Homo sapiens: one gene and its partners. The protein of the gene in region 1 purifies or fractionates together with the protein of each later gene. This does not show direct contact. Each region holds a gene or a part of one and is shown in the gene's direction. Other genes may lie near its edges. The genes, in order: KYNU, DSTN, SSU72, ADK, ETFA, PEPD and NUP210.

Evidence for each region.
Region 2: the proteins of KYNU (region 1) and DSTN fractionate together in Homo sapiens (co-fractionation; one large-scale study listed by BioGRID). This does not show direct contact.
Region 3: the proteins of KYNU (region 1) and SSU72 fractionate together in Homo sapiens (co-fractionation; one large-scale study listed by BioGRID). This does not show direct contact.
Region 4: the proteins of KYNU (region 1) and ADK fractionate together in Homo sapiens (co-fractionation; one large-scale study listed by BioGRID). This does not show direct contact.
Region 5: the proteins of KYNU (region 1) and ETFA fractionate together in Homo sapiens (co-fractionation; one large-scale study listed by BioGRID). This does not show direct contact.
Region 6: the proteins of KYNU (region 1) and PEPD fractionate together in Homo sapiens (co-fractionation; one large-scale study listed by BioGRID). This does not show direct contact.
Region 7: the proteins of KYNU (region 1) and NUP210 fractionate together in Homo sapiens (co-fractionation; one large-scale study listed by BioGRID). This does not show direct contact.

What each region holds. Positions count from the first base shown.
Region 1 is NC_000002.12:142,957,448-142,961,709, forward strand, and holds part of KYNU (kynureninase), read left to right. Parts: intron 1-193; coding exon 194-268; intron 269-3,176; coding exon 3,177-3,323; intron 3,324-4,262. UniProt on the Homo sapiens protein: Catalyzes the cleavage of L-kynurenine (L-Kyn) and L-3-hydroxykynurenine (L-3OHKyn) into anthranilic acid (AA) and 3-hydroxyanthranilic acid (3-OHAA), respectively. Has a preference for the L-3-hydroxy form. Also has cysteine-conjugate-beta-lyase activity.
Region 2 is NC_000020.11:17,593,538-17,597,799, forward strand, and holds part of DSTN (destrin), read left to right. Parts: intron 1-4,262. UniProt on the Homo sapiens protein: Actin-depolymerizing protein. Severs actin filaments (F-actin) and binds to actin monomers (G-actin). Acts in a pH-independent manner.
Region 3 is NC_000001.11:1,561,165-1,565,426, reverse strand, and holds part of SSU72 (RNA polymerase II subunit A C-terminal domain phosphatase SSU72), read left to right. Parts: intron 1-510; coding exon 511-654; intron 655-4,262. UniProt on the Homo sapiens protein: Protein phosphatase that catalyzes the dephosphorylation of the C-terminal domain of RNA polymerase II. Plays a role in RNA processing and termination. Plays a role in pre-mRNA polyadenylation via its interaction with SYMPK.
Region 4 is NC_000010.11:74,157,229-74,161,490, forward strand, and holds part of ADK (adenosine kinase), read left to right. Parts: intron 1-4,262. UniProt on the Homo sapiens protein: Catalyzes the phosphorylation of the purine nucleoside adenosine at the 5' position in an ATP-dependent manner. Serves as a potential regulator of concentrations of extracellular adenosine and intracellular adenine nucleotides.
Region 5 is NC_000015.10:76,304,618-76,308,879, reverse strand, and holds part of ETFA (electron transfer flavoprotein subunit alpha, mitochondrial), read left to right. Parts: intron 1-4,262. UniProt on the Homo sapiens protein: Heterodimeric electron transfer flavoprotein that accepts electrons from several mitochondrial dehydrogenases, including acyl-CoA dehydrogenases, glutaryl-CoA and sarcosine dehydrogenase.
Region 6 is NC_000019.10:33,518,435-33,523,222, reverse strand, and holds the start of PEPD (xaa-Pro dipeptidase), read left to right. Parts: upstream 1-1,431; 5' UTR 1,432-1,462; coding exon 1,463-1,479; intron 1,480-4,788. UniProt on the Homo sapiens protein: Dipeptidase that catalyzes the hydrolysis of dipeptides with a prolyl (Xaa-Pro) or hydroxyprolyl residue in the C-terminal position.
Region 7 is NC_000003.12:13,315,735-13,319,531, reverse strand, and holds the end of NUP210 (nuclear pore membrane glycoprotein 210 precursor), read left to right. Parts: intron 1-206; coding exon 207-302; intron 303-376; coding exon 377-460; intron 461-1,750; coding exon 1,751-1,851; 3' UTR 1,852-3,297; downstream 3,298-3,797. UniProt on the Homo sapiens protein: Nucleoporin essential for nuclear pore assembly and fusion, nuclear pore spacing, as well as structural integrity.

The sequences.
Region 1 (4,262 bases):
AAGAATGTTCAGAATTCTATATGTGAATTTTATTAAGTGGTTCTTCTCTGTTGTGTATTTTGTTTAGGTGTTTTAACCTTCACCTTGGATTTAATATAATAATATGCCCTTATTTTTACTTTATTATTTGTTATTTCAATGTACTTCTGTGCTCTCAGCTTGATTTGATAAATACATCATCTTTCCTTTTTAGTATGCTATTGAGTCACAACTACAACTTCACGGACTTAACATTGAAGAAAGTATGCGGATGATAAAGCCAAGAGAGGTATATGAGAAAGAAAGAAATATTTGTCATGCTTTGTTTAGTATTGATTTTTTTCTTCATTTTCCTCAAAAGTTTATTAAAATCTTCATTACTTTAATGGAACTTTCAAGAAAGCATGAAGGACCTATACTTCTGTTACTATTAGATCATTTTGCTTAAAATAGAGAATAACTCAGATGTGTATTTATTTTCATTTTTCAAGGGCTAGCCATATGGCAAGCAAACTATTTTTCTGTTAATACCACTGGATTCTGCCATATTCTTCAATGGGATGGGAAAAGGGTGACAAATTTAGTATATCATTTTCAATTCCAAATGTCATGCCCATGGGTGCCATTAAAATCATGCTAAAGACCAGAATTATTTGTTAAAATGGAATCGTGACTATATTTCATGTCCCCTCTTACTCTAAGTATCAAACATTTTCTTTGTGTTTAGACTAGGATAGTGGAGAAAGGGATGTGGTATAATGGGAAGAGCTTTGGCTTTACAGTCTGGCTAATATTTCCAGTGAAATCTCAGACTCTCCAGTTTACTGGGTATGTGACTTTGGGAAAGTTACTTTATTCTCTGAGACTCCTTTATATTTAAACAGATAACAAAAGCATGTGTCTAATCAGGCTTGACCTAAGATCTAAATGTGTACTTTACATTAATAGAGATAAAAGGCTCACAGACTTTGACATTTAAACCCTGCAGCTTGTGTAATTTGTCACTAGTCGAATCATACAGAATAAATTTTAGGTTTCACATAAGATGCTCCCAGACCGCTAGTCATTGTTTGGACAATTACTTCTTTCAACCCAGAATTACTTTGAATAAATTAAAGATGTACTCTATTCACTTCCATTTGCCAACATACAATAAATTAATGGAATAAAAAGTTCTCACATGAGAGGATATAAATTGAGAGGATATAAATTGTTAATTTCTAGCAAAAATGAACATAGCTGCTAATAATCACATAAGTGACCAATATTGTGGAGTTTCATGAGTTACTCATAATCTTGGGACCACTGTTGAGCATTACCTAGAACAAGTCAACATGAGAGAGGGCCGTATCCTGTCGTTGAAAAATGTATTTCTTATGTGCTTAATACTGATTTTTTAAGATATAAATTAAGTATTAGTATCTATAATATTTTCCTTACCACTTTATTGGAAATTATGGTGGGTAAACCTTATTAGATTGTTTTAAGAATAAAGAGTTTTGGATTGCCAAGTTATCAATTTTACTTACAATTAATGACATTCTTTTCTTTATATAAAGTATACTTCACTTAATAATTCAGATATTTTAATAACAATCCCATTAATATTGGGATGCCAATTTTTATTGATGCCCATTTTGTAAACAAATTCCTGGTTTCTTCTAGTAGAGAGTTTATTTCACACCCACACACATACACACTCACACACACACACACGTACTCTCTTAACATGGAGCAGAGTAATTGGCAAATACCAAGATAATTAAAAATTAAAAGTAAACTATAGGATAATATCTTAATGAGCTTCCCCCAAATATTAACGTAATTAATGATGCATTGACCTCAAAATCATGTCAGACAGCACTGGAGAAAATTCATGGCTGGGTGCAGTGGCTCACGCCTGTAATCCCAGCACTTTGAGAGTTTGAGACAGGCAGATCACGTGAGGCCGGGAGTTCAAGACCAGCCTGACCAACATGGAGAAACCCCATCTCTATTAAAAATACAAAATTAGCCAGATGTGGTGGCACATGCCTGTAATCCCAGCTACTCAGGAGGCTGAGGCAGGAGAATCACTTGAACCTGGGAGGTGGAGGTTGTGGTGAGCCAAGATCGCACCATTGCACTCCAGCCTGGGCAACAAGAGTGAAGCTCCGTCTCAAAAAAAAAAAAAAATTATGAAAACTTCAGAATTGCTAGGATACAGGATACACATAGGTACTTTGTATTTAACTAATTTTTTTCAGCTCAAGTTGTTTGCAAGACCAAATCTAAATTCATTCACAACCTTTAGTAAGTAATCAATTATTAGTTGTAGTGGCAAGATATAAGGAAAAAACCCTCTATTATAGTCAGTTTTATTGATATTTTTCTTCTTGTTTGGGTCTTGAGCTTTAGATTAGTTTGGAGGAGATTTTAATCTTAATCTAATAGAAGATATTGGCTAGGTAAAACTCAGATAAAAGATGTGTAAGTGTTATGTTTTCTTTGGTTTAGTTTAATTTAGTTTAGTTTTTTTCTGAGACAGAGTTGCTCTGTCACCCAGGCTGGAGTGCAGTGGCACTATTCTCGTGCTTCCGCCACCCAAGTAGCTGGGATTACGGGCATGCACCACCACACCTAGCTAATTTTTGTATTTTTAATAAAGACTGAGTTTCACCATGTTGGCCAAGCTGGTCTCAAACTCCTTACCTCAAGTGATCTGCCCACCTTGGCATCCCAAAGTGCCAGGATTACAGGCGTGAGCCACACACCCGGCATGTTTTCTTTTTTTGGAAACAATAACAGGATATCAGATTGATAAATGCAATACCAATTTCTGATAATTTATCTTGCTATATAATACTTCATGGACTTCTTGCACTTTGTGGTGTTTTATTAGTCAGGAATAAGGAGAAAACAACTTATAGCTGTGGAAAGAGTACAAATTAATTTTTAAAAACTGGAGAATAAATCAAGCAATTCGGCTTTTGAAGACTTTCACTTGAAAAAACACTTTTTACTTTTTAATTATCATTTCTTAATAATAAAAATTATGCTCAAATGCTGCTCTTATGCCAGATTTTTAAAGAACCTTAATCTGAAAAAAAAAACTATTTTATAATGCAAAAGGGCTCACGGTGAAATTTAGATCGGCAATATGAAATTACAAATTTATTATTATCGATATGACCTAACTTGTGCCTAACTTGATTTAGGGGGAAGAAACCTTAAGAATAGAGGATATCCTTGAAGTAATTGAGAAGGAAGGAGACTCAATTGCAGTGATCCTGTTCAGTGGGGTGCATTTTTACACTGGACAGCACTTTAATATTCCTGCCATCACAAAAGCTGGACAAGCGAAGGTATGCACGCCATTTACTTCTTCCCACCTTACTCCAAACATCACTCTACTTAAGAGTGTTCTAATTGCATGACTTGTGAAGTACTTTAGCTTGTGTCTGAGTAAAACTATTTCAAAAGTTAAAAAAAAAAAGAGTAAACCTTGGGCCAGGCACGGTGGCTCACGCCTGTAATCCCAGCACTTGGGAGGCTGGAGCAGGGGGATCACGAGGTCAGGAGTTTGAGACCAGCCTGACAAAAATGGCGAAACCCCATCTCTACTGAAAATACAAAAATTAGCTGGGCATGGTGGTGGGCACCTGTAATCCCAGCTATTCGGGAGGCTGAGGCAGAAGAGTCACTTGAACTCGGGCGGTGGAGATTGCAGTGAGCCAAGATCGTGCCCCTGCACTCCAGCCTGGGCAACAGAGCAAGACTCCATCTCAAAAAAAAAAAAGCGAGTAAATCTTACATTTTTAAAAGAAAATCTGTAATCTTTTTTGCTTCAGGCATCTCTATTTAAACTGCTTTTTTTTTTTTTTTTTTTTTTTTGCCACTTCTGTGGTCTCACCTCCTTAGTAGCAGCTGCTCTGTGCATTTGCCTCTAGTCAGCAGGCCAGGCAAGCTGTAGGTGATGCCATTGGTACTCAGCTGGTCAGTCACCAGGAAGCAGACAAAATACTTAAGATAGGAAGTACATGCTAGGTCTATTAAAAATTCAACTCATACTTTGTCATACTATAAATCACTCTATAAATGAGTTTTCACTTAATGCTGAGTATCTAAAGATGAAGAAATGCAGAATTCAATTTTATCAGTAGATCAAATTTTATACAAGTTACTTTAAGGAGGCCATTTTATTCCTAAGACTCTTGAAAATTTTTTATACTGCCTGTAATGAGAGCTTTTTTTCCTACCCACTACTAAATCACAGTTAAATTGTTTTGAAGTCATGTCTCTTT
Region 2 (4,262 bases), on another chromosome or scaffold:
TGGGAGCATGTGATACTGGTTTTGATGCAGAAGACTTTTCTGCGTAGTGAGAATTGATCTGACATCTAAAGAGTATTAGCCAAAGAACTGTAGGGAAGTGCTATCTAGGCAGGGTGTATAGTATGAGCAAAGGCCCTGAAGTGGGCCAGAGTATGGCAAGTACAAATGACTGAAAGAAAGCCAGGGTAGTGAAATTGCAGTGTGTGGTCTATAAGATAAGGCTAAAGAGGTAGGTATAGCCAAATGGAGCCCATTATTGGGCTGGGGGTGGTGGCTCATACCTGTAGTCTCAGCACTTTGGGAGGCCAAGGCAGGACAATAGCTTGAGGCCAGAAGTTTGAGACCAGCTTGGACAACATAGTGGGACCTTGTCTCTACAAAAAAAATTTTAAAAATTAGCTGGGCATGGTGGCACGTGCTTATAGTCCCAGTACTCAGGAAGCTGAGGTGGGAGGATCACTTGAGCCCAGGAGTGCGAGGCTGCAGTTTGCTATGATCATGCCACTGCAGTCCAGCCTGGGTGACGAAGTGACACCGTATCTCAAAAATAAATAAATAAATAAATAAATAAATAAATAAATAGCTATTTTTTACCTTCAGATCAATGGAAAGCCACTGGACTGTTCTAAGTATGGTGATCAGATTCATGTTTATGTAGAGGATGAATTGGAGGGTAAAGGTGATGGGCAGTTGGTATGGGCAGTCTTGTTGTATTAGAACTGCAATAACAAATTAAATTCAAAATCTCAGTGACTTAACACAGTAAAGATTTGTCTCTGTCACGCAGAGTCCAGAAGGGTTGGGCAGCCTTCTCCTATCATGAAGTATGCTTACCAAGGTCATCTTGGTGGGAGAAAACAGAGCTTTAAGATCACTTTTATTTAACTTTTATTTAATTTTTGATGTTTTAAAAATCATTTTATTGTGGTAGGATTCACATCTAAAAAGCTGTATTTAGTGTATTTAAAGATCACTTTTAAAGGGCCAGGACTGGAAGTAGTTTACATAACTGGGCCCAGCTTGGCTGTTCAGAACTCAAATGGCTGTTCAGAACTCAGTCATACAGCCAACTCAGCTTGCCAGGAAGGCTGGGGAATGCAGTCTTTCCTGTTCAGCCAAGAAGAGAAAACAGTATGATGTATACATATCCTAATCTCCCTCCTCTGCAGCCACTTGAGGAGTTACTGCAGTCCAAGTAAGAGGCAATGGAAGCTTGGACTGAGGGTGAAATGAGATGAATGTATCAGAGAAAGATGAAAATCCAAAGAGTAAGATAATGGAGGAGTTGCTAAGAACATCTCTTAGGCTTGGAGCCTTATGTGACTAGGAGGGTGGTGATAGCTACTGAGAAAGGAAGACTGGTTAGAAATGGACCAGCTTGTTTTTTATTTTAGACATGTTGTGCATCACATGCCTTTGAGACACACAACTGGAGATGTGAGATAGGAAGTTGAATGTAAAGACTAGAAGCTCAGAAGAGCAGAAGTCTGAACTAAGTTTTGGCTTAGATGATTGAAAGCTTGAGCTTGGGTAAACTCTCTGAGGAAGAATGCAGAGTTCGTCCTTTCCTTCCACACTGCCATCAGCCTCTGCTTTCCACTGCATTGTCCTACCACCCTCACCCCTTGACCTCAGCTGACCTTTTGGAGGTCCCCAGAGCCCTTTTTCTTGTCCTTAGGTAGTTCCTTTTGGAACTCCCCGTCATAGCTGTTCTGAATTGTTAGTAGTAGTAGATTGGAGGAGTGCCCTCAAACCCATCCTACTCCTCCTGCCTTATACTTCACAGAGAAAATAGAATCTTTCAGACACAATTTTTGGCAGTGTATCTTCCTTCCACCTCAAAACTGTCATTTTCCCTTCCTCCCTGTTTCAGAGAAAAAAATGTGTATCTTTTTCTTAGGCTAACTCTCCCATCTGTGCTGTGGATCTTACCCATTTCTTTAGATCTCTGATATTGTTAATTTTATGAGTGATTAAGATTATCTCCTCTGGAATTGCTTGAACCCAGGAGGCAGAGGTTGCAGTGAGCCGAGATGGTGCCATTGCACTCCAGCCTGGATGACAAGAGCGAACGTCCATCTGGAAAAAAAAAAAAAATCTCCTCTGGAGCCAAATTGCCAGAGTTCAAATCCCAATTCCTCTATTGTTTACTCTGTGACCCTGGGCAAATTATTTAATTTTGCTATGCATCTTTAAGATGCAAATAGTGATAGTAGCTGTCTCATAGAATTGTTGTGATTTAGAAGTGTCTAGCAATAGTAAGTACTCAGTGTATGTTTTAATTTTTTTTTAATGTTTTGGCTCTTCCTCTTTATTCCTTCAAGTTCTTAAATATCTAGAACAGTTACATCTCCCCAATCATAAGACAACTTGCATGAAGTACCATTCAATCTTCCCTTTTTTCTTCATTGTTAACCATCTTATGTTTTCTGTCTTTACCTCTTCAATTCCCCATGGGTCCCCAGTCCATTATGGTTGACTTCTGTCCCATTTCTCCCATCTGTTGAAATGTTCAGAGGCCCAATTGCCAAGCCCAGCGATCTGTTTTCATTCTCTGAAATACTGCAGAATTGGCTGTTGATGACTTTCCTCCTCAAAATATTCTCCCTTGCTTCTAAGATGCTGCTTTCTTCCTTCTTTTTCTTCTTAGTTTTCTGATTACCTCTTTTTAGTGTCCTTGATGGGTTTCTCTTTTTAATTTTTACGTACTCAGTGGTGAGAAACTAGATTGGTTTTTCTTTTGCTGCTTAATGTTGGTGACCCCATGGTGTGGGCTAGTCCAAAATATGGATTAGGTGAAGCCTTCCAACGAGATCCGTGCTCATATTTCTGCCACTGTCTGGTCATCTCCACCTAGATGTCTTGCACAGTCTTCAGAGTGGATGTGTCGTACTGTGCCATATTTCCTTTTCTGTTCATATATTGCAGTCTAGTCACTAATCGAGAGAATCCTGGGGCTTCTCTGATACCACTCTTTTGTGTCTCATTCAGCTATATTGGTTTGACTTTGACATGTCCTTGAATTTTTCTGTTTTTAACCTCACTGCTGTAGTTCAGAGCTTTCTTCTCTGAATATTTGTAATTGTGTCAAAATTGGTTTTCTGCTTCCAGTTTCTGTGCCAGTTTCTCCTTCAAGTATTCAGTGTTAATTTCCTCAAGCACAAGTGTCTAATGGTATAAGAAACCTCCACAGACATCACTTCTGATAGAAAAAAAGACAAAATTCTTCCTTACTGAGGCTTTTAAGGAGCTTGTAAGTTACAGCCAGATTTGGCTGAGATTTATCTGTTTTATAATTGCAGAATGCACATTTACTTTGTTTTTGATTACTAGTACATCATTGATTTAATTTACAAATCAGAATTTAGAATGTTTGAGATGCTTAGATATTGATTGATGTATTTAAAGATTGGTTGATTGAATATAAGGCTTTAGATGTTGCCTTCCTGCTTTTAGAAATTGCTTGTTGGGTCAAATGTGACTTCAACATTATGGACTAGGGAGTTAGAGGGATTGGGATCTGTTTCTAGTTCTTCAATTTTTGTTGCTTTGAACATTTTATTCATCTGTTGCAAAATGGAGATTCTTAACTTGCTTAACATAAGATACGTTGTAAAGATCAGAAATATGCTACTCCTAAAGCAGTAAAAGGTTTAAGAAAAGTGCTTTTTAAAATTAGGAATGTGGTAATATTGTGTACTTATGAGTTTTCTAGTCCTAATTTTCTGTTTCTGCCACTTTATTAGAGTGAATGTTCATTTATGAACAGAAAATGTGGAGTAGATGGCATTGGAGTGTGTTATTTAGAGATCTTTAATGAATGAGATGATGAAATAGCCCAGTTACCTTAATATTAAGTAAATGCTAGGATCTTAGTGTATCTTTCTCCCAGGATTCTTGCATGTGTTTTAAAGTGACAACTTTATTTTTATTTGTTTGTATAAATGTATGGGGGTACAAGTGTAATTTTGCTACATGCATGGATGGTAGCAGTGAAGCCAGATCTTTTAGGGTATCCATCACCCGAATAACATACATTCTACCCATTAATTAATTCCTCATCCTCCCCTGGCTCTCCATTGTCTTTTATTTCACACTGTGTCCAGGTGTACACATTATTTAGTTCCTAAGTGCGAACACATGGTATTTGTTGTAATAACTTTATTGAGGTATAATTCACATACCACAAAGTACAGTTCAATTCAGTGGTTTTTCAGTATATTCACAGTTGTGTATGCATCACTCCTGTCAACTTCCAGAAC
Region 3 (4,262 bases), on another chromosome or scaffold:
CTATGATGTTCAGATGTGGCTTTGTGATGGTCAGTTCTGGTTTGATTGCTTTTGTGTAACTTGCTACAGCCTGTCGCCCAGGCTGGAGTGCAGTGGTGCTATCTCTGCTCACTGCAAGCTCCGCCTCCCGGGTTCACGCCATTCTCCTGCCTCAGCCTCCCGAGTAGCTGGGACTACAGGTGCCCGCCACCGCGCCCGGCTAATTTTTTGTATTTTTAGTAGAGACGGGTTTTCACCGTGTTAGCCAGGATGGTCTTGATCTCCTGCCTTCATGATCCGCCTGCCTTCATGATCCGCCTGCCTTCATGATCCGCCTGCCTTGGCCTCCCAAAGTGCTGGGATTACAGGCGCGAGCCACCATGCCCGGCCTAGATTAAAAATTTGAAGACATATTCTCTACTATGAGCCAATGAAATTACTCATTTTGTTTCTATCCCATTTGCTGTCCCTTGCTTTTGGAATTTTGTGTCTTAGTGTGACTGTGATTCTTTCTCTCCTTTTGTCTTTCAGCAAACGGGGATTCAGCGTCCGATCCTTTGGAACAGGGACTCACGTGAAGCTTCCAGGACCAGCTCCCGACAAGCCCAATGTTTATGATTTCAAAACCACATATGACCAGATGTACAATGATCTTCTTAGGAAAGACAAAGAACTGTATCCCAGCGGGTTGCCCTTTAAAAACCCCCCGTGTGGTCCTCCCTGGAAGGTGTTACGTGTGGCTCGGGCACAGGAGGCGTGTCACCCTGTGCAGTGCACACACTGGCTCCTCTGTCTTTGCGAGAGCTTGGTTTCTATTCCTGGTGCACGTCGGATCGTCCACGGGTTAGTTCCAGTGCCACCCATGGCAGTAGGCGTGGTGAGGCGCACAGACACGGTGTGGGGTTCACCCTGACGTGGTTCAGCAGAGGGTCGTGACATAGCGTAGACCAGGGATGCTTAGGTGAGGAGGTGGAACCCACAAAATCCCATTGCTTTTCACACTGCAGGGCTGCCCCGTTATTTCCTTTGCAGGTTGGTGTGCGTGCGTGTGTGCGTGCGTGCCTGATACACATGGAGCCGGGCTGCTTCACACATCTGGTGAGGTCGTTAGAAGGTCAGATAAAGAAGAGGGCGGAGCTTGCTAACCAAGCTGTTAGAAGAAATAATGGGAGAGAACATTCCTTCATTTCAGGAGGACACAGAGCAGGCTAGGTCTGCCGCGAAGACTCCTATAGAGAGAAGAGTATTCTTAAACTAGATTCTGATGGACGCAACACCAGTTGCATAATGGTTATGACAATCAGTGCCCGGGTTTTTGACCAGGCATTTCATGGTCACCCCCACGCTAATGGAAAGTTTCTGGATCTTATTTTGTTATAGTGAGTGATTTGTAGTTTTCAGAACGGAGGCCAGGCCAAACGTATTCCAAATGAAAAGAGAATAGGTGTCAAATGCTAAACCTTTTATCTTCGTGTTGGCACTGTTGCCATCCCCGCCCTCTCCCGACATCCCCGCCCTTGACCAGCATCTCTGGCCTTGCCCAGCATTGTCTATGTATTGGCACTCTTGCCATCCCCGCCCTTTCCCAGCAGAGTCTCACTGTGTCACCCCGGCTGGAGTGCAGTGGCGAGATCTTGGCTCACTGCAGACTCACTGCAACATCCACCTCCCGGGTTCCAGTGATTCTCCTGCTTCAGCCTCCTGGGTAGCTGGGATTACAGGCACGCGCCACCACACCTGGCTAATTTTTGTATTTTTAGTAGTCACAGGGTTTCACCATGTTGGCCAGGCTGGTCTTAAACTCCTGACTTCAGGTGATCCACCCTCCTCGTCCTCCCAAAGTGCTGGGATTACAGGCGTGAGCCACCATGCTCAGCCCTACTCTTGTATTTTTTTTTTTTTTTTTTTTTGAGATGGAGTCAGAGTCTCACCCTGTTGCCCAAGGTGGAGTGTAGCGGCTTGATCTCAGCTCACTGCAACCTCCCCCTCCCAAGTTCAAGCGATTCTCTGCCTCAGCCTCCCGAATAGCTGGGATTACAGGCATCCGCTGTCATGCCTGGCTAATTTTTGTATTTTTAGTAGAGACGGGGGTTTCACCATCTTGACCAAACTGGTCTTGAACTCTTGACCTCGTGATCCAGCTGCCTCGGCCTCTCAGAGTGTTGGGATTACAGGCGTGAGCCACCATGCCTGGCCTCTTGGAATATTTAATAAGCTAAAAAATTCTTATACACAGGTAGATTAATTAGGTAGCCAGGAGTGGCCCCTGAAAGTATGTCTGGCAAAACCTAGAACTGCATCCTAGCCATCACTGTACCTTCTGCCCTCCCTGCTGTCTCCTCTGCCAGTTACAGTTAAAAGGTTGTGGGTGAGGACGCTGGGCAGAGTCCCAGGCGTCTGCTGTCAGCTCCCCAGCCCGGCCTGCCTGCCGAGCCATCTGGGCGTCCCACGGTGGAGAGTGTGGTGCTTGTGACGCGGTGGTGCTGGGAGCCATCCTGGTGGCAGATGTGGGCTCTCACTGCAAGTCAGTGTAAGTCCCCAGGGACTGTCAGCAGCACGTCCTGCTGCCCCTCTCTCTGCAGAAGCCCTGGTAACCTGCGTTTGGAAAAATCTCTAAGGATTTCTGAGGAGCTGTCAGGCCATGTCCTTGTCCACCCTGTGTGGGGCACGGCTTCGACATGGCTCTGCTCCCGTCGTGGGCTGAGAAGGAGCAGGTGGGGCTGTGCCTTGGAAAGGAGGCCCTCCCGACATGCCTTTGTGCGAGGTCCCTGTCCATGCTGTCTCCATCCCGGAGCCTTACGGCGATGGGTGGCCACAGAGCCTATTCCAAGAGTCTGGTTTAGGGCTGGGTCTTCCCATCTTCACCTCTGAGTCTTAGGCGATGCGTGACCACGCAGCCCCTTCCAGGAGTCTGGTTTAGGGCTGGGTCTTCCCATCTTCACCTCTGAGTCTTAGGCGGTGCATGACCACGCAGCCCCTTCCCGGAGTCTGGTTTAGGGCTGCGTGCTCAAGAGTCTGGTTTGGGGCTGGGTCTTCCCATCGCCCTGGAGGAGGCTTTTGTCTCATCTCATGATTCACATTAAACTCTGTGCCATGAAGCTTAGCCTGACATCCTGTTTTTGACAATTACTCTTCAGTTAGCACTGTTTATTTTTAAGTTCTTGTATATTCAGTAAGAGAAAGAAAAGCAGAGAGTGACGCACATCCTCACACTCCCTTGATTGGTGTAAGCTCAGCCCCTTCATGTCAGCCCACTGTGACCTCCTGGGTTCCAGACCTGGGAAGTACTTGCCACGTTCTGCAAGGACTGAGTCCAGCTTCAGCAGTCTCATCCGGAAGGACTTGGTATAGGCAGAGGATGAGCCTGTCTCTGGTCATTCTAAAAGAAGGAGCTGAGCCCAGTGTCCCAGAATTCGGAAGCTCCTCCTTTACAGAGGGACTGTAGGGGTTGGTGATCTCCCAGGAAGCATCGGCCCAGAAGAACCCCGCGTGCGTGTGTGTGCTCTTGGTGTGTGGTGGGGGGAAGGAGTGGCAGCAGGGGTGGCGCTGGGACACTGTCAGCCACGGGCTCTGCTTTGGGGACCTCGTGTGGGAAAGGCATTGCCTGTGGTGGCCCCTCAGGAGGCTCTAGGAGGAGCGTGCCTTCATTACCTTATTTCACTCGGGGGGCGTCTTTGCCCCCTAGGTGGGGGCAGAAGGTGCAGAATGGGAAGCCTGCCACTTAGCTAAAGCTCTTGCACATGATGCCCTTGGCCTGGAGAGGAGTGAAGTCCCCAGGCAGTTCCCTGTGGACACTGGCACGATGCCGGGTGGGGCCTCAGGGGTGTTGAGATGTGCAGGTCGGGAGGACCCCGATAACGTTTCCTGGTTAGTGATGGGTGCAGGGGGGCCGCGGGAAGTGACTGTTACAAGTGAGAGCCCGAAAGCAAATCTGCCCCACAGCAGCCGGTGCGTTGGCAGAAGTCATCGCCGTAAACTGCAGTGGAAGCAAGACGGGGTTCAAGATGCGGCCCAAAGATAAGACGCAGCACTTGGTCGAGTGTTCACAGCGTCAAGACAAAGGACGGGCCGGCGCGGTGACTCAGGCCTGTAATCCCAGCACTTTGGGAGGCCGAGGTGGGTGGATCATGAGGTCAGAAGTTAGAGACCAGCCTGGCCAACATAGTGAAACCCCATTTCTACTAAAAATACAAAAATTAGCCGGGCATGGTGGTGCACGCCTGTAGTCCCAGCTACTTGGGAGGCTGAGGCAGGAGAGTTGCTTGAACCTGGGAGGCAGAGCC
Region 4 (4,262 bases), on another chromosome or scaffold:
CCTGGGAAAAGAGGGAATGTCTGAGCCTATAAACACACGAGGAAGACCATTACTTAGAAAATTAACACAGTTACCAAGAGATAAATTCACAAAAAATCTGATGGAAATATGGGTAATTTCAAAACAATTGTAAGTATTTTAAAGATCCTTAAAAAAGATAAAAGAAATAATGGTCATAAAAAAACATGAATCAAAAATAGGTAGATATGAAATAGATGGCTATATTAAAGAAAAAATGGAATTATTGAAATTAAAAAAAAAATAGGTCAGTTGAACTCTAGACCAGACAAATTTGAAGGGAAAATTAATGAATTGGAAGAAAGTACCCAGATGTATCACAGAGAAATAAATAGGAATTAACAAATATGAGCTGGGCGTGATGGCTCATGCCGGTAATTCCAGTACTTTGGGAGGCCAAGGCGGGCAGATCACCTGAGGTTGGGAATTTGAGACCAGCCTGACCAACATGGAGAAACTCCATCTTTACTAAAAAAAAAAAAAAAAAAATACAAAATTAGCTGGATGTGGTGGTCCATGCCTATAATCCCAGCTACTCAGGAGGCTGAGGCAGGAGAATCTCTTGAACCCGGGAAGTGGAGGTTGGGGTGAGCCGAGATCGTGCCATTGCACTCCAGCCTGGGCAACAGCGCAACTCCATAAATTGAGAGGCACCAACTTACATCTAACTGGGAGTTCCAAAAAGAGGAAATAATGTGAATGGTGGAGAAGCCAGGTTGGAAGAGCTGATGGCTGAGAATTTACCAAAATTTAAGAAAGACCAGTTCTCAGCTTGAAAGGGCATTATATGTATCTAGTAAGATGGAAACAAAAATATAAACTAAAACTTCAGAGATTTTCTTGCTAATTATATTAATGTATCTATTATAGAAAGACTGAAAATTTAGACACTCCAAATTTAATAGTGGGCATCTTTAGGTGGAAGAATTATGAGGTTTAAAAAAAAACTTGTATTTTCCAATGTTTCTACACTGAACATATTAGGAATCTTGCTTTTAAGTTGGAGAGACTTGAAGTACACTGAATATATAAGTGGCCAAGTGCTGTGTGGCTAAATATTATCTTTACAGAATGGACCTCTGGGATACCAAATACCTCTGAAACTTGGTAACATAATTATTATGACTTTATTGTAGGCTATAATCTTTTAAGCTATATTTCTGAAATCCCAAAGCTCTGGAAGCTGGAAGTTTTTTAAAAAGTTTGAGATGAATTAATTTGGCAGCAAAATTTGAACTGATGTAAAGGTGTCAGTAGTATTTATTTGTCTGACACAAATGTATATGCTTTGCTATGGAAATATTAGGCTGTTAATGACATGCCACATGAATTCCTCCTGGGTGTTCTACAAAATATATAGTGCAGTGTTACCTTCCTAAAATCCATAAAATTCTGAATTCCAAAACATACCCTGCCCCAAGGATTTAAGAAAGGGTTTGTGGACTTTTATTACTTATTTATAGTTTACTTTTAAAAGTTGGCTACTGTGCAGGAACAATAATTTCTCATCAGAGTTAGTTCCTAGATTTTTTTCTCTAGTCACTGTTCTGCACTTCTATGATACTAAGTAGATGCTCATTTCAAAGATACTTTTTGGCTAGCTCTACTGTAATACCAGTACAGTTGATGTCACTGAGTTATTAGGCTTTTCTTCCTCTCCAGTAGTAACTGAAAAGACAGACTTCTCTTCAACTTTTGGACTTGAAGATTTGGAAGGCTGTTTTACAAAATGGTCTCCCAAACTGAAGTTTCACATACTGCTTGAAGAAGATACATTCTGATGATTTATCAAAGCAGATTTAGAGTTTTTGCTCTCATTTATGTGTATTATTTCTGATGTTGTTTGTACTTTTGGCTTCGTACCATTTCTTTAAAAATTTGGTTCATACACTTCAGATCTAGAAGCAATGTGATTAGCCTTTGATATAAGAACATCTGAGTTTCTATTTGCATTTTTACTTTCATTGCATGCATGCTGACTTTAGTATTTTCTTTACAATTTAGAAGATATATATGTATAGCAATTATGTAAGAAATTCTTGCCTTCTGTAGGCACAACAGTTTGGTTACTGTATTAACATGGTCTTAACCATTTTGTCAGCAAGCCACATTTGGTTAGTAGTGAGTCCTGCTATTTTACTATGTTACCTGCAAACAGGATTGCAGATGTGAAGGTAGCCTGTGTGATCATTGGTCACTCACTGAATTAGGGATTATCAGAAATTATATTGAAGTGGTCACTTGGCTACTTGCCTTCTACATGCTTAGGCTAGACTTTGGTTCATACTTAGAACCATTTTGAAATCTCTGAAAGACTCAGTTGACTCAACCTAACTGGAAAGTCCATCTAATTTTTTTTTTTTTGAGATGGAGTCTTGATCTGTCACCCAGGCTGGAGTGCGGTGGCACGATCTCAGCTCACTGCAACCTCCGCCTCCTGGGTTCAAGCAACTCTCCTGCCTCAGCCTCCCGAGCAGCTGGGATTACAGGCATGCACCACCATGCCCAGCTACTTTTTGTATTTTTAGTAGAGACAGGGTTTCACAATGTTGGCCAGGCTGGTCTCAAATGCCTGACCTCAGGTGATCCACCTGCCTTGGCCTCCCAACGTGCTGGGATTACAGGTGTGAGCCACAGCACCTGGCCTAAAGTCCATCTAAATATGACTCAATCTAGGAGTTCACCGCTTGTCTCTGTTGTCCTTTAGATTCAATTTATCTCTCACGTAGGCCATTTCAGTGTAACAAGATGGCAGTTCTCAACTCCAAGCCAAAATCTCATGAGTCCAAAGGAAGAGAGTTTTTCTATATGCTTGTATCAGTTTTGAGAGAAATTTGGTTCTGCCTGTGTTACACACTACCTTGAACCAGTTGAGGTAGGAGGTGGGGCTCAGACACTGGACCAAATTGAGGACTAGCTAAAACAGGGACAGAGTGGAATCAGCTTTCCGTAAGTCACACCTACTAATGTGCCATGTCAGTTTCCCATTGCCACGGCAACACCCAGAAGTTAGCGTCCCTTTTCATGACAGTGTCCTGGAAGTTACCACCCTTTTCCTAGAAATTTCTGCATAATCTGCCTCTTAATTTGTATATAATTAAAATTGGGTATAAATATGACCACAGAACTGCTTCTGAGCTGCTACTCTGGGCATACTGCCTATGGGGTAGCCCTGCTCTGCAAGGGGCAGTACCTCTGCCGATGCTTTACACTGCTGCTTCAATAAAAGTTGCTGACACACCACTGGCTGACCCTTGAATTTTTTCCTGGATGAAGCCAAGCACCGTCCTGGGCTAAGCCCCAGTTCTGGGGCTTACCTGCCCTGCATTACAATCACTGTATCAGAGGTGGAGATTTGGGCTGGCCTTGGATACATTCTCACTGTCTGCCCGTCTGTTGTGTGCGTGCATGCAGGTAGGGGTGTGTGCGTGCATGCAGGTAGGGGTGTGTGTGTGTGTGTGTGTGTGTGTGTATGTGTGTGTGTAGGTAGTACTAGGTATATGGGGAGCCAGTGAGTGTAGGCATTGTTCGTATATGGGGGGAAATGGATGGGTGTTGATGGGTACACTGTAATCAACAACTCCGACAGGACCTTGTAGAGTAAGGGAGGTAGTGTCATTCCCTCAGCAAGAGAAAAATCCATTTTAGCATGTACAATATTTATTAAAACAACCTTCCTCTTCTCCCCTTCCAAAAAACCCGACAACCTCAGTCTTCAAGGTCTAGCCAAATTCTCTCTTCTCTATAAAACTTTTCTACTCACCAAACCTAGAAATGGTTTCTCCTTTGACTGTTTGTACTTTATACTTTGCGTTATTGCAATGTACAGTATGTGCATGTTTTATCTCACCTATTGCTACTTGAAGTTGGGAAACTAGTTGAATAACTCTTAGTGCCTCATAACTGATCACTTCATTGCAATATAACAGGCTCTGAATTTCTGTTGAATCAAGGAATTCCTATTTATTTTTTTGAGATGAAGTCTCGCTCTGCTGCCCAGACTGGAGTTCAGTGGCATGATCTCGGCTCACTGCAACATTCACCTCTCAGGTTCAAGCAATTCTCCTGCCTCAGCCTCCCGAGTAGCTGGGACTACAAGTGCACACCACCACACCTGGCTAAATTTGTGTATGTGTGTGTTTTTAGTACAGACGGGGTTTCACTGTGTTAGCCAGTATGGTCTCGATCTCCTGATCTCGTGATCTACCTGCCTCAACCTCCCAAAGTGCTGGGATTACAGGCAT
Region 5 (4,262 bases), on another chromosome or scaffold:
ATGTTGCAAATGTGCCCTTTACTCCTAAATAATTGAGTGATATTTTAAAAGAACAAAGAGGTTCACTTTCTAACTACACTGTAATTGGCAATATCTGGAAGTTTCACCATAAAATACTGTTTTCTAATCTATGGATGTTCAATTTTGCCAGTTGTCCCATTAGTACAGTTTATAGCAATTTTCCTTATTCTGGTCTAAGATACTCTAGATGTCCTGCAAGTGGTTTTCATGTCTCTTTACTCTGTTAGAAAGGTTCCTCAGCCTTCCTTTGGGTTTGATGACATTGGTGTATTTGAAGAGTACAGGCCTTCTATTTTCCAGACTGTCACTCAATTTGGGTTTGTCTGGTGTTTCCTCATGATTAGATTCAGGTCATGTATTCTTGGTGGGAATATCACAAAAGTGGTATTGTGTTCCCCGTGCATCATATTAGCAGGTACTTAATGTTGGTTTATCCCATTAGTGGTAATGCTGACTTTAGTTACTTAGCCAAAGTGTTGTTTGCCAGGTTTCTCCACTGTCAAGTTAATACTCCTCCTTTTGTAATTTTTAACTAATTTGTGAGGCGATTCATTGAGACTATGTGACTGTCCTATTTCTCATCAGACTTTTACCCAGTCTTAGCATCTGTTGATGATTTTTGCCTGAGAAATGATTACTATGATGCAAAATGGTGATTTTCTATTTCCATGATACCTTCGTACATTTTTTAGTTATTCTACTATAAGGAAGAACATTATCTTCTTGCATATTTATGGATTTATGGATACATGGATCCTTATTTAGGATAATACATTTCTACCTTATGCTGAAGTTGTCTCATGTTTGTAAAGTGGGGCCCATTCAATCTGACTCCTGTTTGTTTACATATATATGTTTGTGATATCACAAAGTCAAAATAGCTTATCTCAAGTCCCCACTCTTGAAATTAAAAAAAAAATGTTCTGTAGCTAACCATTAATGCATTTAGGAAGAGGATACATTTCCAAAACCATATTTAAAAAAATAAAGTTAGGAATTACAGTTAAAAGATTACCATAAACTGTTAACGATGTGCATATAGTTAACACTTAACACTTAAAAATGGTTAAGATGGGGCCAACCATGGTGGCTGACACCTGTAATCCCAGCACTTTGGGAGGCTGAGGCAGATGGATCACCTGAGCTCAGGAGTTCGAGACCAGCCTGCGCAACATGGCGAAACCCCATCTCTACCAAAAAAAAAATTAGCCAGGCGCCATGGTTCACACCTGTAGTCCCAGCTACTTGGGAGGCTGAGGCACGAGACTTGCTTGAACCTGGGCATTTGAGGCTGCATTGAGCCCAGGTAGCACCACTGCCCTCCGGCCTGGGCAACAGAGTGAGACGCTGTTTCAAAAAAAAAAAAAAAGGTTAAGATGGTAAATTTTATGTATTCTTTTAAACCACTTTGTTAAACTATTAGGATATAAGTTCAATGACTTGCATTTGGTATCTAAGTTCCATTTTTAGTTCTGACTGATTTGTGCCATTGAGTAAAGTCTTTCATCCTTATGTGTGTGGCAATGGTCTTTAAAGTCATCTGTTAACAAAGATAGTTTTTATATCTATAATAAAGAGCTAGAGAACACACCAAGAGGCAAATAGGTAGGCATTTGCAGTTAGTTAATATTCTTGCAGGGATATTAATCCTAATTATTGTTATTTATTAATTTGCTCTTGAAATTGATTTATTGAAGAATAAGAAGATGCAGAAAAATATTTATGTGGTGAGTGAAACAACAATTTCAAGGTCATTTGAGTACTCTTTTTACTGTGTTTATTGTCAGGTGGGAAGGAATATCTATCAGGACTGAGAAGCTATGAAACTGGTGTGAAGGAACATGACACTTTTCTGTCTAGTATTGATGAATAAGATTGAACTCTGTAATTTGCATGCAAATTTTAATTTCTATTGAAAGAAGAAAGAGAGCCAATTTTGGTGTGATTCTAAAAGAAAATTTATTGCATAAGGTGAATTCAGTAAAATTATGATGCCTGCCAATGTGTCTACTAAGAGTCTTGTCCTTTCTTAAAGTGAAGTAAATTGACTGTGTTTTTAGTATTACAGTCAATGTCATATAACATTTCTGGTCATGATTAAAAGCTGCTATATTTTATTACTAAAAGGATTAAAGGAAGTATTTAAAGTACAGAAATATACATTTTAAAAATTACAAAATGTATGTTAAAATAGGGATAGGTGACTTTATATATTATCCTTTTGGGTATGACTCAGAAAGATTTTATAGCTTATTCTTGCTGTTTTTCTTTTTTTAATTAAGAAGCAAAAAAACCGGCTGGGTGCAGTGGCTCATGTCTGTAATCCCAGCACTTTGGGAGGCTGAGGTGGGTGGATCACGAGGTCAGGAGTTTGAGATTAGCCTGACCAACATGGTGAAACCCGTCTCTACTAAAAATACAAAAATTAGCTGGGTGTGGTGGTGCGTGCCTGTAATCCCAGCTACTTAGGAGGCTGAGGCAGGAGAATTGCTTGAACCCAGGAGGCGGAGGTTGGAGTGAGCTGAGATCGCGCCACTGCACTGCAGTCTGGGCGACTGAGCGAGACTCTGTCTCAAAAAAAAAAAAAAAAAGAAGCAAAAAAACCCTCCCCTGCCCTCTATACCCTCATTACACCTAGTTTCCAAAGATGGTTGGGGTGGAGGTATAGGTTACAATCATTCTTACTACTTTAGGTTATGAGTGGGTTTGTAAGGGTAGAGAGTTAGATTCCAGCTTTTTTTCTTCTTCTACCATCTGTGGTACTTTACTATGTGAATATACAGTTCAAGTCACAGCAAGAACTCTAAAAAACTGACAAGCAAAAACAATGTCAAAAATGAGGCTGATGCTGGGCACAGTGTCATGTGCCTGTAGTCACAGCTACTCATGTGGCTGAGGCAGGAGGATCACTTGAGTCCAGGAGACCAGCCTGAGCAACATAGCAAGCAAGACCCAGTCTCAAACAAATACCCACCCCCACAAGAAAAAAAAAAAAACAACTATTGAGGTTGAAAAAGAGAAGGACCAAAATGTGTTCATTGGACTTAGCCATAATGAAGTTTTTGGTGACTTTGGAAAGATTGGATTCAGTGTTGTGAAGGTGAAAGCCAGTTTGCATGAGTAACTGAAAAAATGGAAGGTGAGGTAATAAGAGTTGGTGTCTGTGGAAATTATTTTCAAGAAATTTAGCTTTGAAAGGGTGCAGAGAGGGTGATAACCTCTTTAAATCCTGCCCACAAGAAGTATACTATCTTATAAAGGCCAGTCAACTTTATATGGGTATGTGGCTGGCATGAGAAAGAAAACTTCATATTTTGCTATTTGCAACCAAGTCTAAACAGAGTATAGAGAACTTCTCTAAAAGCATGATGGTGTGTCTGTTTTAGTGATGTAACAGTTTATGTACTGTTTAGTTACCCTTATACATGTTTAGTTGATTACATTATCAATGAGGAAACAGTTGCTTTTTAGTTTTTGATAATTTTAAGAAAAGTTTTCATTTAGTTACTATTCATTGAGTGCCAACTGTGTGCCAGAGAGGTAGATACCAAGTTCACAGTGGAGAACAAGACAGACCTAGTCCCTGCCCTTGTGATGCAAACAGATTAAGGAAGAAACACATTATTTTAAGTGTGGTCATTGTTACAGAACATAGAGGGTGTTTGGGAGAGGTTTAATCTTGTTAGAGGACTGGAAAACACTGAAAGGATATCTGTGAAATTATGTTTGCACACTGAGGTGCCTTAAACTATTGTTACTGAGTGATAAAGTAATAGAGCGGAGGATTTTCTTTCTTTCTTTCTTTCTTTTTTTTTTTTGAGACAGAGTCTCACTGTTGCCCAGGCTGGAGTGCAGTGGCGCCATCTCGACTCACTGCAGCCTCTGCTGCCTGGGTTCACGCCATTCATCTGCCTCAGCCTCCCAAGTAGCTGGGACTACAGGTGCCCGCCACCACGCCCGGCTAATTTTTGTATTTTTAGTAGAGACGGGGTTTCACCATGTTAGCCAGGATGGTCTCGCTCTCCTGACCTTGTGATCTGCCCGCCTCGGCCTCCCAAAGTGCTGGGATTACAGGTGTGAGCCACCGCTCCTGGCCGAGGATTTTCTTTAGATAAAAACATCACTTCATTTTTTAGTTTTGTCTAAAATCATTTATCATTGCTGTATTTTTTCCCCCAATTTTTTTTTTTTTTTTTTGAAATAGAGTCTTACTCTCACCCAGGCTGGAGTGCAGTGGTGTG
Region 6 (4,788 bases), on another chromosome or scaffold:
CCATTAGCTCTCTCCTGACAGATGAGGACAGCAGGGATGGTACTGGGCTTCCAGGTAACTGTGCCACGTGCCCTTCACTACCCTGCTTATGGCTGGCTCCCTTGCTCCTATTTAAGGGGCCTATTCTCCTCCCTGCTTCATGGGGACAAACAGAAGCTGCTTCTCCAGTCATAGCCCCTGGCTCCCACCAGCCTGGCCATGGTGACCCACATCCTTGTTTCGATAAAGAAACAAGAAGCATCCCCCAACCCACAACCTTTGATCAGAAGCCACTTCCAGCTGTGGGACAGCTGCAGGGTGGGGTCAGGAGCCCCACACGCCTATCCTGGGCCACCCATCCACCTGTCCACACACATCTGTACACCACACACATCTGTACACCCTTGGCGCCAGGGACGCCCTCCCCCAACAGTGTGGGGCCCCCTTCCTTCACAGGGGCAGTGAGGTCACTCCTCAGGGTATGGCTTCATGAGCTCAGCCTCTGTGTGAGCACTCTCTGGCCTCAGTTTCCTCATCTGTATAATAGACTTAAAGATAGTCTCGACCTCATAGGGCTGTGGTGAGGTTTCTATGAGCTCACATGTGCAACGCATTTGGGCCGTGCTTGTAATGCCCTGACTCTGTTGGCAGTAGGGAGGGCAGCGTCTGCTGCAGGGTCCCTACACCTTCTCTGCAGGACTCTGCACCCAGTACCAGTGCCCAGTGGGGCAGAGGAGTAAGCCTTCTGGCAGACTCTCCCTCCTAAACCCTTCTCGGCTGTGCCCACTTCTCGCCTGCCCTCCTCCCTGGCTTCCCTTCCTCCAGCTTCTCCATTCTGCAGCCCAGGAAACCTAGAAAAGATCCTACCAGACTTAACTCATAGGCCCCACAGTGGAGGCCCCGCAGGGTCTGGCCCTTGCTTCCCTTAGGCTGCCCCTCTCTCGCGCACATTCTCCTGGACGCTGCACATTTAGAGTCCTCCAGTTGCCCCACGGCCTTTGCTCAAGCCCTTTCCCTTCTTAAACAAAAATCGCCACCTCTGCCCCGACCCTAGCCTGGGTCAGTCTCCCTCCTCTCCTCCCACGTGGTTTCTTTATTCCTATGTGTTCTTCTCCCGGGTGGGCTGGTACGCCAGATCGGGGACTGAACCAGAATCAAGATGTCCTCTGCTTCAGGACCTCCCTCCCACCACGAAAAGGCTGCAGATGCTGCCCGCTAACCCGACCTACTGTCTGCAGCCGGCAGCCCGCTCATTTATCCTGGCCGAGCTCTTGGGCCCCCAATCTCCGGGAGCCCCGCCCCATCGGGGCTCCGCCCTTCCCCAGGTACCGCCCCTTCCCGTCCCGTGGAATTTGGCTCTGGAGGAGGTGGGTCAAGGACTCCATGCCCCGCCCCCTGCCCCGCCCTTACCCCGCCCCATGCATTGGCACCCGGAGGGGCTCAGCTGACGCCGCACTTCACGTGACGCCGGTGCCGGGCGAACATGGCGGCGGCCACCGGGTGAGTGCTGCGCCTCCCTCGCTCTTTCCCGCTGGCGTGGAGAGGGGCATGGGTGTCCCGGCCGGACCGCGGGTGAGAGCGTCAGCCGGGGTCGCTGAATGCCGCGGGTAGGCGCCTCTTCCCGTTGGCCCGGAGTCCCAGCGCCGGTCGGCGAGCTGCACGCTCCGAGTCAGGGTCAGCGCGGGGGCCGCAGCTCCTCTCCACCCTCCTGGCTGGCTCCGGCCCCACCTGCCCGCGTCTGGCGGCCCCACCGTGTGCGGCTGCGGTGGGGGCTGGGGTCGACACGCATGTTCGCTGCCAAGACCCCCGGGTAGGAGGGCGGCGTTGCGAGGACCCCAGGGACCCGGGCGCTTCCCGGAGGAGGCGGTATTCGAGACGGACTTGGAATTCCCTTTTCCCAGCAGGGCACTTCCCCATTTCTTTCAGGGGCCAAATGTCACCCCCTCAGGGAATCCTTCTCTAACCATCTATCCCACTTTTTGTGCCCTCATCATCACCTGATAAACTATATAGAGCATTGTTTGTACTTGTTCTTTATCTTCTCTGCATTTAGAGTGCAAGGGCAGGTATGTTACCTGCTTCTCAGTAGCCCGGTGCCTTGCACACAGTAGGTGCTCCATACTGGGCTAAATGAAAGAAAGCTGAGTGGTCGTAGTGGGAGGAAGGGTGGACAGATGGGTTCACCAGAGCGTTGGGCGGAATCTCCCAGATAGGGAGCATCTGAGCCCAGGGTAAGGGACAAAGGTTGAGAGTTCAGAGTGTTCTGGGGACAGGGGTGCATGCCTGGGGCTGGTTGGAAGGTGTGGTGTTCCAGGTGGCGGCTTCAGACTTTGCCCTGATGGGCTGGAAGGGTTTTGTTACAAGCTGCTTGATCTGTTTTTTAAAGATTAGGCTCCCCTGAGCTATGTGTGAGTTCAATGGGAGAAGGTGTGGGTCTGGTGGTACAGTGGGGTAGAGGGGGCATGGTGTAGGAGGGAGCAGTATTCCAGATGCCAGGTTGGAAACTGAGGTCAGAATGGGGGATCTAGTGGACTGAATGCATCTCTCTTTTTAAGATACAGGGAAAATGGCAACAGAAAGTGGGTTCTAAGTTGGCCCCCAAGGTTGAGGGAGCTTAGAGCATACAAATCAAATATTTTGTGGGCACCTGCTATATTCCAGGAATAGCAGTGGGTCTTCCCTTAAGGTACTCACAGGCCACTGGAACAGATGGACACATGGGACTCTGTCATCCATCTGCTTGCCGTGTGGTCTTGCCATTTGCAAAGGAGGGGCATGGACTCTGAGCTCAGATAAAGTGTGGGAAGGCTTCACTTCCTGGGTGACTTTTGTGCTAGTCCTTCAGCAATGAGACTCCCTTCAGGTAGAGAACAGTGCAGACAAAGTCTCAGATGGGTGTCAAGGAACTCAGGGTCAGATCCTTGAATCCAGCCTGTGACCCTTTTAAAGGGTAGACTGAGCAGGCTGGTGCCCAGCTGTGGGTGTGCTGTCTCTCTGGTTAGGCTGGCTCGGTGCTCACAGGGAGTGCCAGGGGTTGCATTTGGGTTCAGGATTCCAAGCTGGCCTGAGACCTGCTGCTCTCCTGAAGGAACCAAGCTGATGTCTGGACGGGAGCAAGTCTGGAACTGACTGGATCCTGGAATGAGAGCTTTTCTTTTTCTCTTTCTTTTTTTTTTTTTGAGACGTAGTTTTGCTCTTGTTGCCCAGTCTGGAGTGCAATGGCATGATGGCTCACTGCAACCTCCACCTCCCAGGTTCAAGCGAGTCTTCTGCCTCAGCCTCCTGAGTAGCTGGAATTACAGGCGTGTGCCACCACACTCAGCTAATTTTTTGTATTTTTAGTGGAGATGGGGTTTCACCATGTTGGCCAGACTGGTCTCGAACTCCTGACCTCAGGTGATCCACCCGCCTCCGCCTCCCAAAGTGCTAGGATTACAGGTGTGAGCCACCACGCCTGGCCCCAGAATGAGAGCTTTTCTAGCAGAACCGATTCTCTGGGCCACCACACAGGGTGGGTGAGGGAGGCAAAACAGAGTGGCAGGTCTTAGAGAGGTCTGCTATTGAGAGGGTGTGGGAGCTTCCAGAGCCTGGCAGTCTCCTTGGGAAGAGCCATCCCAGTCTGGTATGGGGCTTTCCCATGTACTTTGAGCCTGAGGTTGACCCCAGTGGCTTCCTTTAGAGCAGAATGATTAAGTGTGTTTCCCGCAAAGCTCAGCTCCTAGCCACACTCACAGAACAGATCATAGAGTCAGGCATAACGAGGCATGATGCCAGCAAGTCACGGCCATTGCCGTGGGCTCACTGGGAGTTGGGTTTGGTTGTCTGTAGAATCCTACCAGAGCCTGGGACAGAGGGGGTCCATGAGAGTTCCAGGTGACTGGGGTGTGCCCCATATGATTTGGGGAGTAGGGGAAGCCCTAAACTAGCATCTCAGATTTAATTTGAAACTCAAGAATCTACTCTGAATGCATCTCTCTTTTTAAGATGTGGGGTGTTTCAGGGTTGATCCTACTTTCTCTTGCTAGCCTGGGTGTAGGCTTCAGGTTGAGACAGAGTGCGCTGAGGTCACCTCCCATCCCCTCATGGAGAGGGGTCCCTATCCCATGGCACTTGGTGGCACTGCTGCTGTCTCCTTAAGCAATGCTTTGAGCTTTCCACAGACAGGATTGATAATTTGAAATCTGTCAGCTCCAGCCAGACCTGTCTGCATCTGCTCTCCCACATGGCTTTTTCCATTCCCTTCTTCCCTTGCACACTCACCCAACTAGCCCTGGAATGTTCTTGTCCTCTATATGATTCTTCACGTATTTGCAGGCCCAGCTCAGATGGTTCCCTTTCCCAGAAGCCTTTCCCAGCCCTCGGGTAAAGGTTTAGTGCTCAGAACTCCAGAACACTCAGTTTTCTCCCCAGCAGTACACTTTTACACGTCTGCCCATTGTGGGTTAGGAGTTGCTTCCCTTCATGCCTCTCCTAGCATCCTTAGAACCCCTGGGGTTCTTTTGTATCCGCAGGGCCAGTCTGTGGCTGCCCTGTGATTGGTGCTTGGTGAAATGAATGAAAAGGGGATTTACTCTAAATTAGTCCAGCATCCCATCCTGCTTTCCTGGGAGACTCCCAGTGATTGAGGGAAGGAGTCATGGTGGGGAATGGGGACAGAATTCCGAGGGGTAGGATGAAGAAATAGCCTTAATTCTTTAACTGAGTGGCTCCCAGGAGCTGTTGCAGAGCCAAAAAGAGGCAAAGGTGAACTGCCCTGGACGTGTACCCCTGTTGAGCCGTAGGTTACACTGGAGTCAGCATTCTTCTGGA
Region 7 (3,797 bases), on another chromosome or scaffold:
GCCTGCGCCAGGAGAAGAAGTGCCAGGGTACCAAGAACAGCTGTGGGCCCGGGCCTCCAGCAGGTGGCCTGGCCCTCTGAGACCACCATCCTTACATCTAAGAGGGACCTGTGGACTGCCCTGTAGACGTACAGTAGGGCAGGAACGTGATGGGATGCCACAGTGGGCCTGGTGGTTTTGGTAACTCATCTTCCCATTGATGGCAGATGGAGCCAGCCTCTTCCAGCACTTCCTGGATTCCTACCAGGTCATGTTCTTCACGCTCTTCGCCCTGTTGGCTGGGACAGCGGTCATGATCATAGGTGAGGAGGCTGCCTGTATCTCTGGGTCTGTTCCCCTGCCCCGACCTGCTCTAACCAACCCTGTGCTCTTGCAGCCTACCACACTGTCTGCACGCCCCGGGATCTTGCTGTGCCTGCAGCCCTCACGCCTCGAGCCAGCCCTGGACACAGCCCCCACTGTGAGTAGCCCCCCTGCAGGCACAACCAGGCAGAGCTGCTGAGAAAGAGAAGAGCCCTGGGGGAGGGGTCGAGGCTCCTGAACCCTAAGTCTCAACAGGCCCTTGCCTGGGCCAAAGGAGCCTGAGGCCCAGAGGACAGATGTGGGAGCCAGGAGGGTCGGGGCAGAGGGGCTGCCAGTCCTGGTTCAGCAAGAGCTTTCCCCAGGTAGAGCCATGCTGGGTGGAGGTATGGGCAGCAAGGAGCTCTGTCTAGGCAGGAGTGCATGCTAGGACTGGATGCCCAATTGCTGAGGCTGCCTCAGAAGGCTCTAAGCTGGGGTTGGACGAGCTGACTCACAGATGGGGATTCTGGGTAGTTCTGATGAGAAATTTCCCAGAAGAATGGGCAAAGTCATTTATTTCAATGGTCTAACTGTCTCTCTGGTGACCCCGAAGCCCTGGTGACCCTGCACAGCTCCAGGGAGCACCTCACTGTGTGAATGTAGTTTCTCTCTCAAACAATGCAGTGCCCAGCCTGTACTGCTGTACGTGAAGGCCCTTTAATGTCTCCTGATTCCCATTTGAGGGTTCTCTCCCCTACACAAAGAGTCCTCGAGCTCGTGTCTGCTGACATGGGGGCCCATGGACCGGCTTCAGGGGGGTCCCTGAATTTTTTTGAAAGAAGACCCAGTTGTGTGGGTAGAAGCACTTTCCTGGGTAAGGAGAGCCCACACGCCCTTGTCTTCTGCCTGACGACTTCTCTACCTGCAAAGCGGCACCCAGGGGAGGCCACGGGTGCTCGGCCTCCTCGCGGCTCTGCTGCCTTCTGCAGCTGCTCTGGCAGCAGGTGCCTGCCCTTTCTAGCTGCCTCTCTCAGCGTGCTCCTCCCTGGGTTTTGGGAGCCACACCTGGATCTCTGCAAGGTCTCCGGAGCACTGCAGAATCGCTGCTCCCCTCGGGGTCTTTGTTCCTGTGGCGCTCTTGCCCGAGGCTGCATTGCATTCAGATGCACGGGGCCTCCCTGCCTCATGCCCCCTGGACAGATGCTGCTGTGGTCCTGAAACTTGAGACACGTTCTCCCCGGAAGGCTCTGCGCTCCTGGGTGTTAGGGTGGCATCCCAGGCCTCTCTGTGTGAATGAGGCCAGCTCAGCAGGTGCCCGTGGACTTCCCTCTGCTGGCCGGGGAGGCCTCGGGGCATCACTGTGAGAGTGTCCTGGGTGAGGCAGGCGCCTGCTGAATGCTGGCTGTAACTGAAGAGTGCGCCGCTTTCCCTGGCTCTGCTGCTAACATCGTCTCTCTTCCCACCCTAGATTTCGCTGCCTCATCACCCACATCTCCCAATGCATTGCCTCCTGCTCGCAAAGCCAGCCCTCCCTCAGGGCTGTGGAGCCCAGCCTATGCCTCCCACTAGGCCGCGTGAAGGTTCCCGGAGGATGGGTCTCAGCCGAGCCTCGTGCACCCCCAAGATGGAACATCCCTGCTGCATTCACACTGGAACAAGCCCCTCCAGATGAGTGCCCCGGCCCCAGGCCAGCTTCACTGCCGTCTCTTCACACAGAGCTGTAGTTTCGGCTCTGCCCATTAGCTCATTTTATGTAGGAGTTTTAAATGTGTGTTTTTTTCCTTTCAAGTCTTACAAAGCTAAGACTTTTTGGCTCATTCCTTTTTGCATGGTTGTCTAGGGTTTCTGGACAATGTGCTGTTGCATTTTTATTTTCCTAGCCTTGCTAAAATCTTTCCCTTCTCAAGACTTTGAGCAGTTAGAAGTGCTCTTTAGAAGTTGTCTGTGGGTGATGTTACTGTAGTGGTCTCAGGGAAAGGATTGTCCAGTTACTTTAGGGGGTTTTTGGTGGGGTTTTTCCCCCTGTGAAAACTTACTTTGCCCCTAGTCTGGCTGCTGCTAGGACTTCTGAGGAGCAATGGGACATGAGTGTCCCTGTATCTGCGCCACTGCCGCAAGGGAAGCCTCAGGAACCAGCACCTGGAGGCCAGGATAGCCAAGCCCTGGGTGAGCGAGAGGCTGGAGAACACAGGAGCTCACCCAGGGCTGCTGCCCAACCATGGGCCACTGTGAACAGACTTCAGTCCTCTGTTTTTGTTTCATAAGCCGTTGAGACATCTGATGGACTTGGCTTAGGCCCTGCTGGGACATCCCACGTGTGATCCCTTTCACTCCATCAGGACACCAGGACTGTCCTTAGGAAAATGTCCTTGAGATGGCAGCAGGAGTCATATTTTCTGTGTGTGTGTTTCGGAAAGCCGCTGTGTCCTGCCTCAGCACAAAGACCCAGTGTCATTTGCTCCTCCTGTTCCTGTGCCACTCCAGAACCTCAGCAGATCTGAGCCACCGCCTGCCAGTGTGAGAGGCGGCCACTTTCATGGCAGCTCATCAGGCGCAGGGCCCCAGACAGCTTCCCAGCAGGCCCTAGAGCCCGGCCTGGGCCAATGATGGAGGGCGGCCGCCAGCCCAGGGCCTGCCCATCCAGAAGGGACTCCCCAGGGCCTGGGGGAGGAGACCCTTGGAAAAGTCCTCTCTTCCCAGCTCCTGATTCTGGATCTGAGATTCTCAGATCACAGGCCCCTGTGCTCCAGGCCGAGGCTGGGCTACCCTCAGGGAGATCCAGAGACTCATGCCCATGGCCATCCATGCGTGGACGCTGTGTGGAGAGTCCAGGATGACGGGATCCCGCACAAGCTCCCTTCAGTCCTTCAGGGCTGGGCCATGTGGTTGATTTTTCTAAAGCTGGAGAAAGGAAGAATTGTGCCTTGCATATTACTTGAGCTTAAACTGACAACCTGGATGTAAATAGGAGCCTTTCTACTGGTTTATTTAATAAAGTTCTATGTGATTTTTTAAGAGGGTGTGATCGTTGCTGAGATTTCTGTCTGATGGTGATGATTTCTTCCCTTTACCCATCTATGATACTCTGGGGCCTGGCAGAGCTGGAGGTCTGAGCTTTATTCTCCCCAAAGGGTGAGCATCATTTTCAAGCACATTCAGGTTGGCAAATGCAAGTGCATCTGGACGCAGCCAGATCTTGCCAGCAAGTGAGTGTGCCCAAGAAGGCACATTGACAAAACCAGGTGATGCCACACAGTTCAGCTTTCTGCTCCCAAGCTAACCAAGCAACTCTCTGTCTCTAATGGTTGCCAGAAAAGGCTTTTAGCACCATTTAGCACTAAAAATATAGTACATCATATAGATTGTTTTTTCTCTAGAATTCTTAAGTCTGGCCAAAAGTGAACTCTCGTTCTCTGTTTCTCTGTGTGTCTTTGTGCATGCTTACATGTGCATTCCTGCATCCTGGAAATGTTTTTTTGTTTTGTTTTGTTTTGTTTTTGTTTTTCGTTTGTTTT